2 separate regions of the Homo sapiens genome follow, and region 2 is linked to region 1. Evidence: fine-mapped expression QTL. A gene starts in region 1. The other region holds a variant in brackets. All regions are shown on one strand. Distances are from middle to middle. Region 1 holds the start of ICAM1 (intercellular adhesion molecule 1). Region 2 overlaps TYK2 (tyrosine kinase 2).

Evidence for each region. PIP is the estimated chance that this variant, and not a neighbour inherited with it, causes the effect.
Region 2: its variant is the best candidate, but not a certain one, in a credible set for the expression of ICAM1 in whole blood (INTERVAL, PIP 0.76).

Annotation. Positions count from the first base shown.
Region 1 is chr19:10,266,462-10,277,074 of GRCh38, forward strand. It overlaps ICAM1 (intercellular adhesion molecule 1), which reads left to right and starts at 4,659. Exons shown (of 7, transcript NM_000201.3): 1 at 4,659-4,765; 2 at 8,304-8,567. The coding sequence starts at 4,699. LIMASI (lncRNA inflammatory and mucous response associated, antisense to ICAM1) reads right to left here. Exons shown (of 4, transcript XR_007067138.1): 2 at 229-333. RefSeq lists a silencer at 1,572-1,866 and enhancers at 4,221-4,310, 5,221-5,460.
Region 2 is chr19:10,355,325-10,363,324 of GRCh38, forward strand. It overlaps TYK2 (tyrosine kinase 2), which reads right to left. Exons shown (of 25, transcript NM_003331.5): 10 at 7,225-7,333; 11 at 6,940-7,132; 12 at 6,754-6,857; 13 at 6,446-6,631; 14 at 6,187-6,274; 15 at 3,851-3,978; 16 at 2,679-2,814; 17 at 2,440-2,594; 18 at 1,244-1,394. Among named protein-coding and RNA genes, the nearest start is that of ICAM3, 20 kb to the left of the region's middle. The variant A/C (reference allele first, on the strand shown) is at 3,975.

The DNA.
Region 1 (10,613 bases):
CAAAGTGCTGGGATTACTTATTTTGTTTTTTGTAGAGACAGGTTCTCACTGTGTTGCCCAGGCTGGTCTTGAACTCCTGATCTCAAGTGATCTTCCCACCTCAGTCTCTCAAAGGGCTGGGATTACAGGGGTGAGCCACTGCACCCCACCTTCCCTCTACTTTTTGACGGTTTCCTTCTGCTATGAATGTGCATGTCCAGTTGTCTGCTTCTTAGAACTGATATTTACCTTCCTCATCCATCAGCCATTGGAGGAGGACTGGGACCGCTCAGATTATTGATCTGACCCATTCTTTCGGCAGGGTTTCCTGGTGGCTGTCTTCCATCACCAAAACTGGAATCAGAAGAGTTTCCATAGCCCTTTTTTTTTCCCCACATCTTTGCTGAAGCAGAGTTTTGAAAAACAAAACCACAAACTAAGCTATTCCCCAGAAGAAATCTGTAATCAAAGATAAGCTCTGCCGGGCACAGTGGCTCACGCCTTTTGGAGGCCAAGGCGGGCGGATCACCTGAGGTCAGGAGTTCTAGACCTGCCAGGCCAACATGGTAAAACCTCATCTCTACTAAAAATACAAAAATTAGCTAGATGTGGTGGTGGGTACCTGTAGTCTCAGCTACCTGGGAGGCTGAGGCAAGAGAATCGCTTGAACCTGGGAAGTAGAGGTTGCAGTGAGCCGAGATTGCACCACTGCACTCCAGCCTGGGCGACGGAGTGAGACGACCTCACAAAAATTTACATAAATAAAATGAAAAGTAAAATAAAAATACAAAAGTTGGCCGGGTGCGTTTGCTCACGCCTGTAATCCCAGCACTTTGGGAGGGTGAGGCAGGCAGATAATGAGGTAAGAAGATCGAGACCATCCTGGCTAACACGGTGAAACCCTGTCTCTACTAAAAATACAAAAAATTAGCTGTGCGTGGTGACACGCACCTGTAGTCCCAGCTATTTGGGAGGCTGAGGCAGGAGAATCACTTGAACCTGGGAGGTGGAGGTTGCAGTGAGCCGAGATCGCACCACTGCACTCCAGCCTGGGCCACAGAGTGAGACTCCATCTTGAAAAAAAAAAAAAATACAAAAGTTAGCCAGGGGTGTTGGTGGGTGCCTGTAATCCCAGCTATTTGGGAGGCTAAGGCAGAAGAATTTCTTGAACCTAGGAAACGGAGGTTGCAGTGAGCCGAGATCACACCTCTGTACTCCAGCCTGGACAACAGAGCGAGACTTTGTCTCAAAAAAAAAAAAAAAAAAAAAACTAAATAGGCCGGGAGCAGTGGCTCATGCCTATAATCCCAGCCCTTTGGGAGGCCAAGGCAGGTGGATCACTTGAGGTCAGGAGTTTGAGACCAGGCTGGCCAACATGGTGTAACCCCGTCTCTACTAAAAACACAAAAATTAGCCGGGTCTGGTGGCGTATGTCTGTAATCCCAGCTACTCGGGAGGCTGAGGCAGGAGAATCACTTAAACCTGGGAGGCAGGGGTTGCAGTGAGCTGAGATCGTGCCACTGCACTCTAGCCAGGGTGACAGAGTGAAACTCTGTCTCAAAAAATTAAAAAAGAAATTCAGCAAGTAATGAGTTAAGGAATTCGAATATTAAGGCGAGTGACAAGGAACGCCCAGGATGTGGCCCAGGATGGAGTAGGGGGGACACTCATTTAGGAGAAAGCTCAGGCCACAAGACAGGAGGAGCCAGCCTTGTTGGGGTTGAAGGGAAGAGCATTCCAGGCTGAGGGAACTGCAAGGCGTTTGCATGGGACACTATGGGATGGCTTCTGCCCTTGGTGGGCAGCCTCTGGTCTGAGGCCATTCTTTGGCCTGCCTGACTGTCTGGCAACCGGGAGGAAGCCCTGCCCTTCCTGGAGACAGAAACAAAGGTCTAGGAAATATCTGCTTCCCTTTTCCTTGAAAAACGCTTAAGGGAACGGAGGACTGGGAGGTGCCGTCTCTCTCTGCCAGCCTGCCCCCTACCATAGCCATCCCACTCCCATCTCAGAAAGTGACCCGCCATCCTCCAAAAGGCTCGGACCCTGATCAAGGAGTCATCCCCCTTGTCCCAGCACCTCCAGTTGGCCCAGCCTCCAAAACGGATGTCAAATTCAGCCCTTTCTCCAAGGACACTGCCCAGTCCAGGCCCCACTATCATTCATCTGGACTAGAACAGTCACCTCCTCTCCCATCTCCTGGCTGCAGCTCTTGAAGCCTCAACTGGGCCCCTGTGAACACTTGAGTTAGGGCAAGGTCCTTCCTCTGCTCAGAACCCTCTATACCTCCCACCTCGCTGGGCATAAAAGCCAAAGTCCTGGCCAGGCACGGTGGCTCACATCTGTTATCCCAGCACTTTGGGAGGCCAAGGGGGGCGGATCACTAGAGGTCAGGAGTTAGAGACCAACATGGTGAAACCCCATCTCTACTAAAAATACAAAAATTAGCTAGGCGTGGTGACGCACCCCTGTAGTACCAGCTACTCGGTAGGCTGAGGTGGGAGAATCGCTTGAACCTGGGAGGCAGAGTTTGCAGTGAGCCGAGATCACACCACTGTGCTCCAGCCTGGGTGACAGAACGAGACTGGGGTTCAGAAACAAACAAACAAAACAACAAAGTCCTCCTCAGGTGACAGGAACTTGCACCTATCTGCCCTGTCATCTCCCTGCCCGCTCCTCTCCTCGAATCTCTCCTTTGCTAAGCCTGCTCCAGCCACACTGTTCTCCTGGCTGTTCCTTTTTTTTTTTTTTTTTTTTTTTTTTTGAGTCTCACTCTCACCCAGGCTGGAGTGCAGTGCCTCTATCTTGGCTCACTGCAACCTCCGCCTGCCGGGTTCAAGAGATTCTCCTGCATCAGCCTCCCAAGTAGGTGGAATTACAGGTGTGCACCACCACACCCGGCTAATTTTTGTATTTTGCATAGAGATGGGGGTCTCCCTATGTTGCCCAGGCTGGTCTTGAACTCCTGGGCTCAAGTGATCCTCCCATCTCGGCCTCCCAAAATGCTGGGATTACAGGTGGGAGCCGCGCCCAGGTGGATTTTTGTCTGACTCTGTTCATTCCTGTGTCCCCAGTACCTGGAAGGACGCCAAGCACACAGTAGGCGCTTAAAAAACATTGAGCCACATGTTGAGAAAAGAACGGCACCATTGTGGCTGCAAGTGGGACTTGGGCCGCGCGGGGGAGCTCGCGCACCTCGGGCCGGGGCAAGAGCTCAGTGGAACCCGCCCGAGGAAGAACCCGTGGCGCAGGATTTTCCCAGGCCTTCTGAGGACCAGGGGCGTCCCCCGTCCCACCCTGTGACTTTGCTCAGGCCGTTCCGGGGCGGGAATTCAGAACTCCTCAGCCCCCCAAGAAAAAAATATCCCCGTGGAAATTCCTTGGGAATGACCGAGGCGGGGGAAATATGCGTCTCTGGATGGCCAGTGACTCGCAGCCCCCTTCCCCGATAGGAAGGGCCTGCGCGTCCGGGGACCCTTCGCTTCCCCTTCTGCTGCGCGACCTCCCTGGCCCCTCGGAGATCTCCATGGCGACGCCGCGCGCGCCCCACAACAGGAAAGCCTTAGGCGGCGCGGCTTGGTGCTCGGAGACTTAAGAGTACCCAGCCTCGACGTGGTGGATGTCGAGTCTTGGGGTCACACGCACAGGCGGTGGCCAAGCAAACACCCGCTCATATTTAGTGCATGAGCCTGGGTTCGAGTTGCCGGAGCCTCGCGCGTAGGGCAGGGGTTCGAGCGCCCCTTCTCCCTGCCTCGCCTCTGCGCCTGGGGGCTGCTGCCTCAGTTTCCCAGCGACAGGCAGGGATTTCGAGCGTCCCCCTCCCCTCCCTCGTCAAGATCCAAGCTAGCTGCCTCAGTTTCCCCGCGGAGCCTGGGACGCCAGCGGAGGGGCTCGGCGCGTAGGGATCACGCAGCTTCCTTCCTTTTTCTGGGAGCTGTAAAGACGCCTCCGCGGCCAAGGCCGAAAGGGGAAGCGAGGAGGCCGCCGGGGTGAGTGCCCTCGGGTGTAGAGAGAGGACGCCGATTTCCCCGGACGTGGTGAGACCGCGCTTCGTCACTCCCACGGTTAGCGGTCGCCGGGAGGTGCCTGGCTCTGCTCTGGCCGCTTCTCGAGAAATGCCCGTGTCAGCTAGGTGTGGACGTGACCTAGGGGGAGGGGCATCCCTCAGTGGAGGGAGCCCGGGGAGGATTCCTGGGCCCCCACCCAGGCAGGGGGCTCATCCACTCGATTAAAGAGGCCTGCGTAAGCTGGAGAGGGAGGACTTGAGTTCGGACCCCCTCGCAGCCTGGAGTCTCAGTTTACCGCTTTGTGAAATGGACACAATAACAGTCTCCACTCTCCGGGGAAGTTGGCAGTATTTAAAAGTACTTAATAAACCGCTTAGCGCGGTGTAGACCGTGATTCAAGCTTAGCCTGGCCGGGAAACGGGAGGCGTGGAGGCCGGGAGCAGCCCCCGGGGTCATCGCCCTGCCACCGCCGCCCGATTGCTTTAGCTTGGAAATTCCGGAGCTGAAGCGGCCAGCGAGGGAGGATGACCCTCTCGGCCCGGGCACCCTGTCAGTCCGGAAATAACTGCAGCATTTGTTCCGGAGGGGAAGGCGCGAGGTTTCCGGGAAAGCAGCACCGCCCCTTGGCCCCCAGGTGGCTAGCGCTATAAAGGATCACGCGCCCCAGTCGACGCTGAGCTCCTCTGCTACTCAGAGTTGCAACCTCAGCCTCGCTATGGCTCCCAGCAGCCCCCGGCCCGCGCTGCCCGCACTCCTGGTCCTGCTCGGGGCTCTGTTCCCAGGTGAGTCGGGGTGGGGATTGCCGTCGGGCCAGTTCTCCGAAGCCCCGGGAGGACCGGCTCCCGGGTCAGGTCATGCATGCTTAGGTAGCTGTTTATGGGAAGGAGGGGCTAGAGACAGCGATTGAAAGGCAACAGCCAGTAGGTTCGAATCCAGACCCTGCATACCTCCACGTGTGGCCTTGGGCTATAGATTGCAGCTTTAAAAAAGGGTAGGGGGTTGGAGATGGAGGGGAGGGGCGGGCCTCGTTTTGTTGCCCAGGCCGGTCTTGAACTCCGGGGGTCTAGCCTTACCTCCTGCCTCAGCCTCCCGAGTAGCTGGGATGAGAGGTGTGAACCACCGCCTTGCTTGGCTAGATTGCGTCTCTTACAGTTTCTCAGCTGTAAAACGGGAAACGTTATAGCGGCCACCTGGCAGGGTATCTTGGCCCAGCGCAGCACCTGGCCCCAGGACTCGATCATGATGGTTTGGGAACTTGGCTCTGTGCCAACCCAACAAGGCTTAAGGGACCCCCACCCCCCTCAAGATGTATATTCTGTTCCTCATCCTCTCTGCCCCTGGGGAAGTCCAGGGCTGCTTCTACTTGGGGGAATTCCAGAGCTGACTTATCCGTGGCCCAAAGCTGAGAAGTGGGACGCCCCAGCACACCCTCCCCCAGCTCCAGCCCAGCTAGGGAAGAGGGAAGGGGTCAGAGGGTCTTTCATGGTGGTGTAAGTTTGGGGAACCAGGAGGGTGGGAGATTGACAGCTTGGTTAACAGCTCAACAAAGCCTGAGATCCAGGCCAGCACGGTAGTTCATGCCAGTAATCCCAACACTTTAGGAGCCCCAGGCGGGCGAATCACTTAAGGTCAGGAGTTTGAGACCAGCCTGGCCAACATGGCAACATCCCGTCTCTACTAAAAATACAAAAATTAGCTGGCATGGTGGTGGGCGCCTGTGATCCCAGCTGCTCGGGAGGCTGAGGGAGGAAAATCCCTTAAGCCCACGAGGCTGAGGTTGCAGTGAACCAAGATTGTGCCACTGCACTCCAGCCTGGGAGACATAGCGAGATTCTGTCTCAAAAAACAAAGCGTTCTGATCCGGACTCAGACCCAGATCGCACTGCTTTCTAGCTGAGTAACCATTTCTCTCTATGAAATGGGAATGGTCCCAGAATCTCCCTTGGAGAATGTATGGAGCCAGTGTCCTCACACCCCCATCCAAGATAGAACAAATCTGAGACAGGAATCTTTGAGTGAGGCAGTGCTGGGCTCAGACATTTTTTCCCACCTTCGGAGGCAGCAGAATCTGAGGGACCTGATCCAAATAAGCCCCTTCTTTCTTTCTTTTCTTTTCTTTTTTTTTTTTTTTTTTTTTTGAGACGGAGTCTCACTCTGTCGCCCAGGCTGGAGTGCAGTGGCGTGATCTCGGCTCACTGCAACCTCTGCCTCCCAGGTTCAAACGATTCTCCTGCCTCAGCCTCCCTGAGTAGCTGGGACTACAGGCATGTGCCATCACACCCGGCTAATCACTGTGTTAGCCAGGATGGTCTCGATTTCCTGACCTCATGATCTGCCCACCCTGCCTCCCAAAGTGCTGGGATTACATGCGTGAGCCACAGTGCCCACCCCGTAAGCCCCTTCTTTCTTACCTGCAAGGTAGCCAGTTGCTACCCATCCTGTGCTGAGTTACTTGTATTAGCAAGGGATGGGGTGGCTATACTCACCCACCTTACAGATGGGGAAATTGAGGCCCAAAGAGGGGGAAACTACGTGTCTCAGGGAGTGAGGAGCCAGTCTGATTCCTGGAGGGCTGACTGTCTCCACCTGACTTCTTAGGAGGGAGGAGGGCACCAACTTCACATTAAAATCTGGTTGGACACAGTGGCTCACACCTGTAATCCTGGCATTTTGGGAGGCTTAGGCGGGAGGATCACTTGAGGCCAGGAGTTTGAGACCAGCCTTAGCAACATAGTGAGACCCCATCTCTACAAAAATGTTTTTCAGGGCCAGGCGCGGTGGCTCACACCTATAATCCCAGCACTTTGGGAGGCTGAGGCGGGCGGATTACCTGAGGTCAGGAGTTTGAGACCAGCCTGACCAACATGGAGAAACCCCGTCTCTACTAAAAGTACAAAATTACCCGGGCGTGGTGGCGCATGCCTGTAATCCCAGCTACTCGGGAGGCTGAGGCAGGAGAATCGCTTGAACCTGGGAGGCGGAGGTTGCGGTGAACTGAGATCGTGCCATTGCACTCCAGCCTGGGCAACAAGAGCTAAACTCCGTCTCAAAAAAAAAAAAATGTTTTTCAAATATTAGCCGGGTATGGTGGTGTCCTGTAGTCCCAGCTACTTGGGAGGCTGAGATGGGAGGATCACTTGAGCCCAGGAGTTCAAGGTTACAGTGAGCTATGATTGTGCCACTGTATTCCAGCCTGGGTAACAGAGGGAGACCCGTTTAAAAAAAAAAAAGTGATGGCTAAAGTCCTTCCATGGCTCCCTATTGCCCTCAGTATAAAGAACACATGTGGCTGGGCGTGGTGGTTCACGCCTGTAATCCCAGCACTTTGGGAGGCTGAGGCGGGCGGATCACTTGAGGCCAGGAGTTTGAGAGCAGGCTGGCCGACGTGGCGAAACCCCGTCTCTATTAAAAATACAAAAATTAGCTGGGCGTGGTGGTGCTTGCCTGTAATCCCAGATACTCTGGAGGCTGAGGCAGGAGAATCACTTGAACCCGGGAGGCAAAGGTTGCAGTGAGCTGAGATTGCGCCACTGCACTCCAGTCTGAGTGACAAAGCGAGACTCCATCTCAAAAAAAAAAAAAATAAAAGAACACATCTTTAGCATGGCCTTCAGTGCTCACGGGATCTTCCTGAATTAATCTCCCCCTCTTCATCCTTGCTCACTCAGCTCCAGCCACCCTGCCCCGGGACATCTGTACTTGCCTGGAACTTATTTCCCTTTTCTCCGGACAGCCAGCCCTTTCTCGTCATTTAGATCTCTGCTGAAACATTACCCTGTCACCAAAGCACTGTCTATTCTATCACCCTGTTTTGTTTTTGTCAAAGCTCATATTAACATCAGTTATTAATTATCTTGTTTGCTCATAATTTTTTTTTTTTTTTTTTTGGAGACAGAGTCTCGTTCTGTTGCTCAGGCTGGAGTGCAGTGGCACAATCTTGGCTCACTGTAACCTCCACCTCCCAGGTTCAAGTGATTCTTGTGCCTCAGCCTCCCAAATAGCTAGGACTACAGGCACGTCCCACCATGCCCAGCTAATTTTTGTATTTTTAGTGGAGACGGGGCTTTGTCATGTTGGCCAGGCTGATCTCAAATTCCTGACCTCAAGTGATCTGCCCGCCTTGGCCTCCCAAAGTGCTGGGATTACAGGCGTGAGCCACCACACCCGGCCTGCTCATGAATTTTCTCTTTAACTTCCACATCGAAGGCAAAGTATTGTCTTGTTAAGGCTGTGCCTCCAGCACCCAGCACAGGCTGGGCGCACATTCCCTTGATGAACCTGATTTGTAATGCCTGTCGCCTCTTCCCTCGTTTCTTCTAGGACCTGGCAATGCCCAGACATCTGTGTCCCCCTCAAAAGTCATCCTGCCCCGGGGAGGCTCCGTGCTGGTGACATGCAGCACCTCCTGTGACCAGCCCAAGTTGTTGGGCATAGAGACCCCGTTGCCTAAAAAGGAGTTGCTCCTGCCTGGGAACAACCGGAAGGTGTATGAACTGAGCAATGTGCAAGAAGATAGCCAACCAATGTGCTATTCAAACTGCCCTGATGGGCAGTCAACAGCTAAAACCTTCCTCACCGTGTACTGTGAGTAACTGAGCCCGGAGGGCTGGACTAGGCAGACCCGGTGGGAGAGACGTGCAGGGGCACCTGCAGAGGCCTGGGGGAATCTTTGCCACTTGCTCGTAGGGTCAAGGAGGGGCTCCTTGCAGGGCAGGTGGGGACATCCTTGGAAAGTCCCTTTGTGAATTTCTTTGGGTACAATTAAAGTATTTACAGGCTGGGTGCGGTGGCTCATGCCTGTAATCCCAGCACTTTGAGAGGCTGAGGCTGGCGGATCACCTGAGATCAGGAGTTTAAGTTTCGCCAACATGGCGAAACCCTGTCTCTGCTGAAAATACAAAAATCAGCCGGGCATGGTGTCAAGCGCCTGTAATCCCAGCTACTTGGAAGGCTGAGGCAGGAGAACGCTTGAACCTGAGAGGCAGAGATTGCAGTGAGCCGCGATCGTGCCAGTGCACTCCAGTCTGGATAACAGAGCAAGATTCCATCTCAAGAAAAAAAAAATGCCATCTCTCTATGCCTCACTCTTTGAACATATGACACGGTCCTGCTTCAGACACTTTAATAAAAGATGCAAATTAAGCCAAGTGTGGTGGCTTGTACCTATAATCCCAACTACTCCAGAGGCTGAGGCAGAAGGATGGTTTGAGCCCAGGAGTTTGAGACCAGCCTGGGCAACAGAGTGAGACCCTGTTTCTTTCTTTTTTTTTTTTTTTTTTTTGAGACGGAGTCTCACTCTGTCGCCCAGGCTGGAGTGCAGTGGTGTGATCTCGGCTCACTGCAAGCTCCGCCTCCCGGGTTCACGCCATTCTCCTGCCTCAGCCTCCCGAGTAGCTGGGACTACAGGCGCCTGCCACCATGCCCGGCTCATTTTTTTGTATTTTTAGTAGAGACGGGGTTTCACTGTGTTAGCCAGGATGGTCTCAATCTCCTGACCTAGTGGTCCGCCCGCCTCGGCCTCCCAAAGTGCTGGGATTACAGGTGTAAGCCACTGTGCCCATCCAAGACCCTGTTTCTACCGGAAAAAAAAAGTAAATAATTTAGCTGGGCATCGTGGTGTGCACCTGTAATCCCAGCTGCTCCTGAGGCTGTGATGGGAGGATTGCTTTAACCCAGGGGTTCGAATCCTAGGAGTTCGAATCCATCCTAGGCAACATAGCAAAACCCCATTTTTATTTAAAAAAAAAAAAAAAGATATGAGTTAAAACTAGCCCTGGGATGGCATTTTTCACATATTGGTAACAAACAAAAGAATTGATGGCCGGGCGCAGTGGCTCACGCCTGTAATCCCAGCACTTTGGGAGGCCGAGGCGGGCGGATCACAAGGTCAGGAGATCGAGACCATCCTGGCTAACATGGTGAAACCCCGTCTCTACTAAAACTACAAAAAATTAGCCGGGCATGGTGGCAGGCGCCTGTGGTCCCAGCTACTCAGGAGGCTGAGGCAGGAGAATGGCATGAACCCGGGAGGCAGAGCTTGCAGTGAGCCAAGATCGTGCCACTGCACTCCAGCCTGGGCGACAGAGCAAGACTCCATCTCAAAAAAAAAAAAAAAAAAAAGAATTGATAACAGCTGTGCTGCCAAGGCTATTGGAACGTAGGAGGTCCTAGGACAGTGCTGTTGGGAGCATAAATAAGCCCAACCCTGTGGCGGGAAATTGGGCATCAGTTCTCAAAATGTCATGGGCTGGGCACGGTGGCTCACGCCTGTAATCCCAGCACTTTGGGAGGCTGAGGGAGGCGGATCACTTGAGGTCAGGAGTTCGAGACCAGCCTGACCACCATGGAGAAACCCCGTCTCTATTAAAAATACAAAAAAAACTAGCCAGGCATAGTGGCACATACCTGTAATCCCAGCTACTCGGGAGGCTGAGGCAGGAGAATCTCTTGAAACTGGGAGGCAGAGGTTGCGGTGAGCTGAGATTGCGCCACTGCACTCCAGCTTGGGCAACAAGAGCAAAACTCCATCTCAAAAAAAAAAAAAAAAGAAATAAAAGAAGGTATGTTGAATATGAGTGGTATGCCACCCTCACATTAGGGAAGGGCAGTTTCGGGGAGGCTGTATTTATG
Region 2 (8,000 bases), 88 kb after region 1:
AATGTGATATGACCAGTTGAAAATGGCATATTAGGCCGGGCGTGGTGGCTCACGCCTGTAATCCCAACACTTTGGGAGGCTGAGGAGGGTGGATCACCTGAGGTCAGGAGTTTGAGACCAGCCTAGCCAACACAGTGAAACCCCGTCTCTACTAAAAATACAAAAATTAGCTGGGTGTGGTGGTGGACGCCTGTAATCCCAGCTACTCGGGAGGCTGAGGCAGGAGAATTGCTCGAACCCAGGAGGCGGAGGTTGCAGTGGGCCGAGATCGTGCCATTGCACTCCAGCCTGTGCAACAAGAGCAAAACTCCATCTCAAAAAAAAAAAAAAGAAAGAAAGAAAAAAAAAAAGAAAATAGGTCAGGCGCAGTGGCTCATGCCTGTAATCCCAGCACTTTGGGAGGCCGAGGCGGGTGGATCACGAGGTCAAGAGACTGAGACCATCCTGGCCAACATGGTGAATTCCCGTCTCTACTAAAAATACAAAAATTAGCCCGGCGTGGTGGTGGGCGCCTGTAGTCCCAGCTACCCAGGAGGCTGAGGCAGGACAATTACTTGAACCTGGGAGACGGAGGTTGCAGTGAGCCAAGATTGCACCACTGCACTCCAGCCTGGCAACAGAGTGAGACTCCGTCTCAAAAAAAAGAAAAAAGAGCATATTAATTTTTTAAAGAGAACAATACAAAACTTTTTTAAAAAGAAAAAAAAAACTGCAGTGGTCTAATTCTCTAATCCAAAGAAGTTGTGTCTCTCCCCAGACAAAACATTAAGGAGGCCAGGCGCAGTGGCTCACGCCTGTAATCCCAGCAATTTGGGAGGCTGAAGCAGATAGATCATTTGAGGTCTAGAGTTTGAGACCAGCCTGGCCAACATGGCAAAACCCCACCTCTACTAAAAATACAAAAATTAGCCGGGCATGGTGGCACACGCTTGTAATCCCAGCTACTTGGGAGGCTGAGGTGGGAGGATTGCTTGAACCTGGGAGGTGGAGGTTGCAGTGAGCCAAGATCACGTCACTGCGCTCCAGGCTGGGTGACAGAGCAAGATTCCATTGCAAATAAATAAATAAATACATTAATGAGAGCTCAGGGCAGCCAGGCAGGGCATGCTTATGAATGCCACTGCAAGAAATTGGCACACACCCTGAACCACTGTGCAGAGACCTCTCGTGCGCTATAGGCATACAGCAGGGATCCCAGCCCCGTCCCACTTCCCCAGGGTCCCAGCACTGGGATGGAGCTCACTGTGGGGCTGCAGCCGGGTGAGGTCACGCAGGATGGTGCGGAATGATGGCCTCTGGGTTGGCTCATAGGTCAGACACTGGCTGGTGAGTGTGGCCAGCTGTGGGCAGGAGGGCTCGGGCAGCCGGTGCTGCCTCTGGTAGAAATGCTCCTTCTGTTGGGAAAGGGACCCAGAGGAGTCAACATCCTCCCCTCGCCCCCAACCCGTTCCCCAAGAGGCAGAGTCAAGTCCCCAGAGTGGACCGCCAGGTGCCCGCTCTTATCAGTTCCATTATACAGATGAGGCAACTGAGGCTCCACAAAGTGGGAGGACGTGCTCACAGCCGTAGAACCAGGACTGGGACCCAGGTCCAGTGATTATGCAGAGCTGGAGTGTCACAGTCAGCCTCCTGCCCCAAGCTTCCCTCCTGCCCCTCCTGTAGACCACAGCTCCTTAATACACTGAAGCCTCAGCCTTTGCACAGGCCATGCACTCTGCCTAGGCTGCCCTTCCTAGCCAGGCTTGTTGGCATAATTCTACACTTAGATAAAACCTCTTCTGGGGCCGGGCACTGTGGCTCATGCCTGTAATCCCAGCACTTTGGGAGGCCGAGGTGGGCGGATCACCTGAGGTCAGGAGTTTGAGACCAGCCTGACCAATATAATGAAACCCCATCTCTACAAAAAATACAAAAATTAGCCGGGTGTGGTGGCATGTGCCTGTAATCCCCCCTACTCGGGAGGCTGAGACAGGAGAATCGCTTGAACCCAGGAGGCAGAGGTTGCAGTGAGCTGAGATCACGCCATTGCATTCCAGCCTGGGCAATTAGAGTGGAACTTCGTCTCAAAATAAAACCACCACACTCATGAACCTCCTTTGGGAAGCCTTGTCTGACCCCACTGCTGGGTGAGGCGCATCCTCAGCCCTTCTTCCCCACTCTGCAGCCTGGGCGTCTCCCATCGCTGCCCTGGTCACTCTGCCTAAAACTGAAATCAAGTCTCTTACTTGCCTTCTGTGTGCCAGGCACAAGTGACTTCCACAAGGACCTAAAAAGGCTGGGACTACATTGAGCCCCAGCGAGTGGCCCACCTGCTGGTAGCCCAGAGAGACTTGAAGTCACGAGGCCAGAAGGGATGCAGCTTTGAGCTCTGATTCTGTCCTCTGGATTTCTTGGAGGGGCCCCCACTGCGGGGAGGGCCCAAGGGTCTCCTAGACATACCTCGGAGGGACTGCGGCTCTGCAGAGGGGCCTCTCCGTCAAAGCAGATCTCCAGGAGGGTGGCGCCAAACCCCCACTTGTCCATGGCGGTGCTTAGGCTGTTGGCCCCACCTGGTAGGCATTCGGGGGCCAGCCAGGGGATCCTCTCCACCCGCTCTGGGAGGCCAAGGTCAGAGGTCACCAAGGGTGAAAGGAGCAGGGGAAGCCCCCCACTGTGCCCAGGTCCCCTCAGGTACTCACCCTCCCTGGAGAGGGCGCCCAGGCCCACGCCAGGATCACTCAGCTTGATGAAGGGGCTGGTGCCCTCTGCCAACCCCAGCCGGGCCAGCAGGATGTTCCGGCCACACACATTACCATGAACCAGGTTCTTGTTCTCCTGAGGTGGGCAGGAGAGGGGGTGTGGCCACTCAGGAGAGGCACAGACGCCAACCCCAAACCTGGTCCCCATAGGGACAGCCAATGTGAAAAGGACAACTGTGACTATCACTGGGTTTCTTTCTGTTTTGTTTTTTGGGGGGTTATTTTTTTCTTGTTTTTTTTTTTTTTTTTTTTTTTTAAGACAGGGTCTCACTCTGTCTCTCAGGTTGGAGTATAGTGGCACGAACATAGCTCACTGCAGCTTCAAACTCCTGGGCTCAAGCCTTCCAAGTAGCGAGAATTACAGGTGCACATCACCACAGCCTAGCTGATTCTTAAATTTTTGGTGGAGATGGGGTCTAGCTATGCTGCTGCCCAGGCTGGGGTGCAGTGGTGTGATCATAGCTTACTACGGCCTCAAATTCCTGAGCTCAGGTGATCCTCCCACCTCAACTTCCTGAGTACCTCGGCCTACAGGTGCAAGTTACCACATTGGCTAATTTTTTTTGTATTTTTAGTAGAGGCAAGGTTTTGCCATACTGGCCAGGCTGGTCTCAAACTCCTGACCTCAGGTGATCCACCCGCCTTGGCCTCCCAAACTGCTGGGATTACAGGTATGAGCCACCACACCTGGCTATTTGTTTATTTTTAAAAGATGGGGCCAGCTGGGCGTGGTGGCTCACGCCTGGAATCCCAGCACTTTGGGAGGCTGAGGCGGATGGATCACGAGGTCAGAAGTTCGAGACCAGCCTGACCAACATGGTGAAACCCCATCTCTACTAAAAATACAAAAATTAGCTGGGCGTGATGGCAGGAGCCTATAATCCCAGCTACTTGGGAGGCTGAGGCGGGAGAATCATTTGAACCCGGGAGGCGAAGGTTGCAGTGAGCCGAGATCATGCCATTGCACTCCAGCCTGGGTGACAGGGCGAAACTCCACCTAAAACAAAACAAACAAAAAAGATGGGGTCTCGCCCTGTTGCCCAGGCTGGTCTCGAACTCCTGGGCTCCTGGCCCTCCCTGACCGACCCAGGCCCCACACACAGGCCACACACCAGGTAGCTGAGGGCGCTGGCCAGCTGCTGGGCCACCACCATCTTCCAAGCCATGGGCACATGGCCCCGCTCCCTCCGCAGCCACACATCCAGGGGTCCGTGCTCCACGTACTCTGTCACCATG[A/C]TATCTGTAAAGACACAGCTGCTCTGGGGCAACCTGCCTGCTTCTGCCCTCTGGATGGCGGGGAATTGGGGGAGACGCCAGGGAGGGACTTGGCATGTGGCTGGGGAGGTGTCAGGGCAGAGGTGTGGGTGGAGTTTGGTCTGGGTTGAAAGTGAGTTTGGGGAGAGAAGAAATGCGGAATGCAGCAGAGGCAGCGGTGGATGAGGGCATTGGGGTCCAAGTGGGATGGGGCACGGAAGAAGTTGAAGTTCAAGAGAGAAAGGTGGGCTGGGCGTAGTGGCTCACGCCTGTAATCCCAGCACTTTGGGAGGCTGAGGCAGGTGGATCACCTGAGGTCAGGAGTTCAAGGGCAGCCTGCCCAACATGATGAAACTCCATCACTACTAAAAAAAAAAATACAGCCGGGCGCGGTGGCTCACGCCTGTAATCCCAGCACTTTGGGAGGCTGAGGCGGGCGGATCACAAGTTCAGGAGTTCGAGACCAGCCTGGTCAATATGGTGAAACCCCAACTCTACTAAAAATACAAAAAAATTACAGTGAAACCCCATCTCTACTAAAAAGACAAAAAAATTAGCCAGGCATGGTGGTGGGCGCCGGTAGTCCCAGCTACTTGGGAGGCTGAGGCAGAAGAATGGTGGGAGACGGAGCTTGCAGTGAGCCGAGATCACGTCATTGCACTCCAGCCTGGGCGATAGAGCAAGACTCCATCTCAAAAAGAAGAAAAAAAAAAAAATTAGCTGGGCATGGTGGCACATGCCTGTAATCCCAGCTATTCGGGAGGCTGAGGCAGGAGAATTGCTTGAACCCGGGAGGCGGAGGTTGCAGTGAGCCGAGATCACGCCACTGTATTCCAGCCTGGGTGACACAGTGAGACTCCGTCTCAAAAAAATTAAAAAAAAAAAGAGATAAAGGTGGCAGGGTACAGTGGCTCATGCCTGCAATCCTGTCACTTTGGGAGGCTGAGGCAGGAAGATCCCTTGAGCCCAGGAGTTTGAGATCAGCCTAAGCAACATAGTGAGACCCCATCTCTACAAAAAATTTTTAAAAATCAGCCGGGTGTGATAGCACACGCCTGTCATCCCAGGTGCTCAAGAGGCTGAGGCGGAAGGATCGCTTGAGCCCGGGAGGTCGAGGCTTCAGTGAGCCATGATGGCACCACTGCATTGCAGCCGGGGCAACAGAGGGAGACCCTAGTCTCACAAAAAAAGAGATAAAGGTGAGCCTACAAAGTAAGCAACTAGGGATGGGGGGGATGGGCATGGATAAGCAGAGGCTAGGGGCTTGAGGTTGGGGTGTAGGAGATGTTTGGGTACCAGAGTAGTCAGAGGGATGTGGGTCAGGGTGTCGGCCAGGGTCCAGGGGAAAGTGGGGGAGATGCACACACACACACACACAGGGGGGTTGAGGGATGGGTGGGTCTAGGGTTGTTCTGTACAAGGGCTTTATTTTTTATTTATTTATTATATTTTTTGAGACAGAGTCTCGCCCTGTCGCCCAGGCTGGAGTGCAGTGGTACAATCATGGCTCACTGCAGCCTTGAACTCCTGGGCTCAAGTGATCCTTCCATTCCAGCCTCACAAGTAGCTAGGACTACAGGCATAGGTCACCATGCCTGGCCCTGATTTTTAAATTTTTTGTAAAGATAGGGTCTGGACATGTTACCCAGGCTGGTCTTGAACTCCTGGGTTTAAGCGATCCTCCCACCTCTGCCTCCCAAAGTGCTGGGATAGGTGTGAGCCACCACACCTAGCCTATACAAGGAGTTTTGAGCTACCTGCAGAGGAAAGGAAGAGGTGGGGTTAGGCAGGGTTGGATGTGCAGGGGCTGAGGCCTAGGAGAATCAGCACACATCAGCACTGGAGTCTGCCTGAGGCCATAGTGCTGATGGGGCCAGGAGCAGATGGGGGCTGGACTGTAGAGGTTGTTTGGGAGGTTGATGGAAGTGGGGATGTAGTTGGGAATCAGGGTGGGGGTTGAGACTGAGGGCAGGTGAGGGTCGACGTGTTGGGATGTAAGTTATGGGCTGGAATATCGTTAGGGGTTGGGGTCTAGGTTGAAGGTCAAGGTGTAGCCCGGGATCAGAGTACAGGTGAGAGTTGAGAAATAGGCATAGGTTGGGGTGTAGGTCGAGGGTTGGGGTACAGATCAGGGAGTGGGTATAAGTCAGGGGTGGCCTGCCAAAGGGGGATGGGTATGGCGGGACCCACTCACTTTCAGGGCCGCGCACACAGACGCCATGCACGAAGGCCAGGTGCGTGTGGGAGACCTGGCTCATGAGGCTGGCTGTCTCGTAGAAGGCCTGTGGGGACCGGGCAGGTCAGGTGGCTGCAAAGCCGACCCCTCCCATCCCACCTCCTCCACGGACACACCCCTCCCATCCCACCTCCTCCACAGACACACCCCTCCCATCCCACCTCCTCCGGCCACCTCCTCCACAGACACACCCCCAGGCCTGGCCCTGCCCACTCACCAGGGCGATGTCATGGTGACTAGGGTCCAGCACTTTGAGCACCACTCGTAGCTCCTGCCCACGGTCCCTGCCAGGCACGAGGGGGTCCTCGTCATCCATCTTGCCCTCCTCAGGGTCCCCGCTGCCCTCCACTCGCAGGCGGCCCTCATACACGTTGGTCCTTGTGCCCTGGCCCAAGTGGGACAGCTGCGGGATCATGTGGCACAGAATACCGCCATGGTGAAAGTTAGCAGCTGATCTCCCAGGGCCCCCAGCACCCACATCCCCAGGGGCCCTGCCCTTGCCCCGGGCCCCTTCCCTGCACCCACCTGGGTGATCTCCTTCTGGTCAACCCGGTGGAAGCTGAGCTGGCTGAGGTTGAGTGTCCTGGGGCTGGCCCGAGCCCCCCGCATGATGATGAGATTGGAGGTTTCTGGGGGCAGGCATCAAGTCATGGAGGGCGGGCCTGGGGGAGAGATGCCACATCCCACCCAGAGGTCCCCCTATCATCGTACCTCCTGGTTGGGGCAGGCAACAGCGACGCAGAGAGAAGCAGTCATCCCCGGCCCTCAGCAAGCAGCCCTGCAAGGCAGCCCCAAGTTCCCGAACGCTGGGGAAGGACCGGCCCCAGCCCTCCAGCACGAAGGCCCCGTCCTGCTGCTCAATGGGGAACTTTCGGAGCCGCAAGCTCTGCATGCCGTCTGGTGCCTGGCAGGAGGTGGCAGAGGTGGGAGCAGTAAGCAGGGGACCAGGCAGGGAACGTGTCCAGCCCCAGCCCCAGCCCCCAGCCCTGGGCTCACCTGGCTACGCTGGGCCACTGTGAGGATCAGGCGGTAGGGGTGGCTGGTGCTCCAGTGAATGAGGTACAGGCCGTCCTCGGGCCGCAGCTTGGCCTGCACAAATGGCTCCCTGGAAGGTGGTCCAGGGGGACTATCAGGCCACCTGGGGCCACTCTGGACCCATACCCGGGAACAATGACACTCATTACCTACTTAGAGGGCACACACACAGCTAGGACAAGTGTCAGACACAGCCACTCTTGTGGGGACACTAACTCTGGACACACAGCCACTTACATGGAGACACAATGCAGCAGCAGGCACACACCTGCTTTTTTGTTTATTTGTTTGTATTTTTTAGACGGATTTTCCCTCGTCACCCAGGCTGGAATGCAATGGCGTGATCTCAGCTTATTGCAACCTCTGCCCACCTGGGTTCAAGCAATTCTCTTGCCTCAACACCTCAACCTCCCGAGTAGCTGGGATTACAGGTCCCTGCCACCATGCCCAGCTAATTTTTATATTTTTAGTACAGAGGGGGTTTCACCATGTTAGCCAGCCTGGTCTCAAATTCCTGACCTCAGCTGATCTGCCAGCCTCAGCCTCCCAAAGTGCTGGGATTACAGGCATGAGCCACTGTGCCCGGCTACCTGATCTCTCTTTTTTTTTTTTTTTTTTTTGAGACAGGGTCTTGCTCTGTTGCCCAGGCTGGAGTGCAGCGGTGCAATCTTGGCTCACTTCAGCCTGGACCTCCCAGGCTCAAGAGATTCTCCCACCTCAGCCTCCTGAGGAGCCAG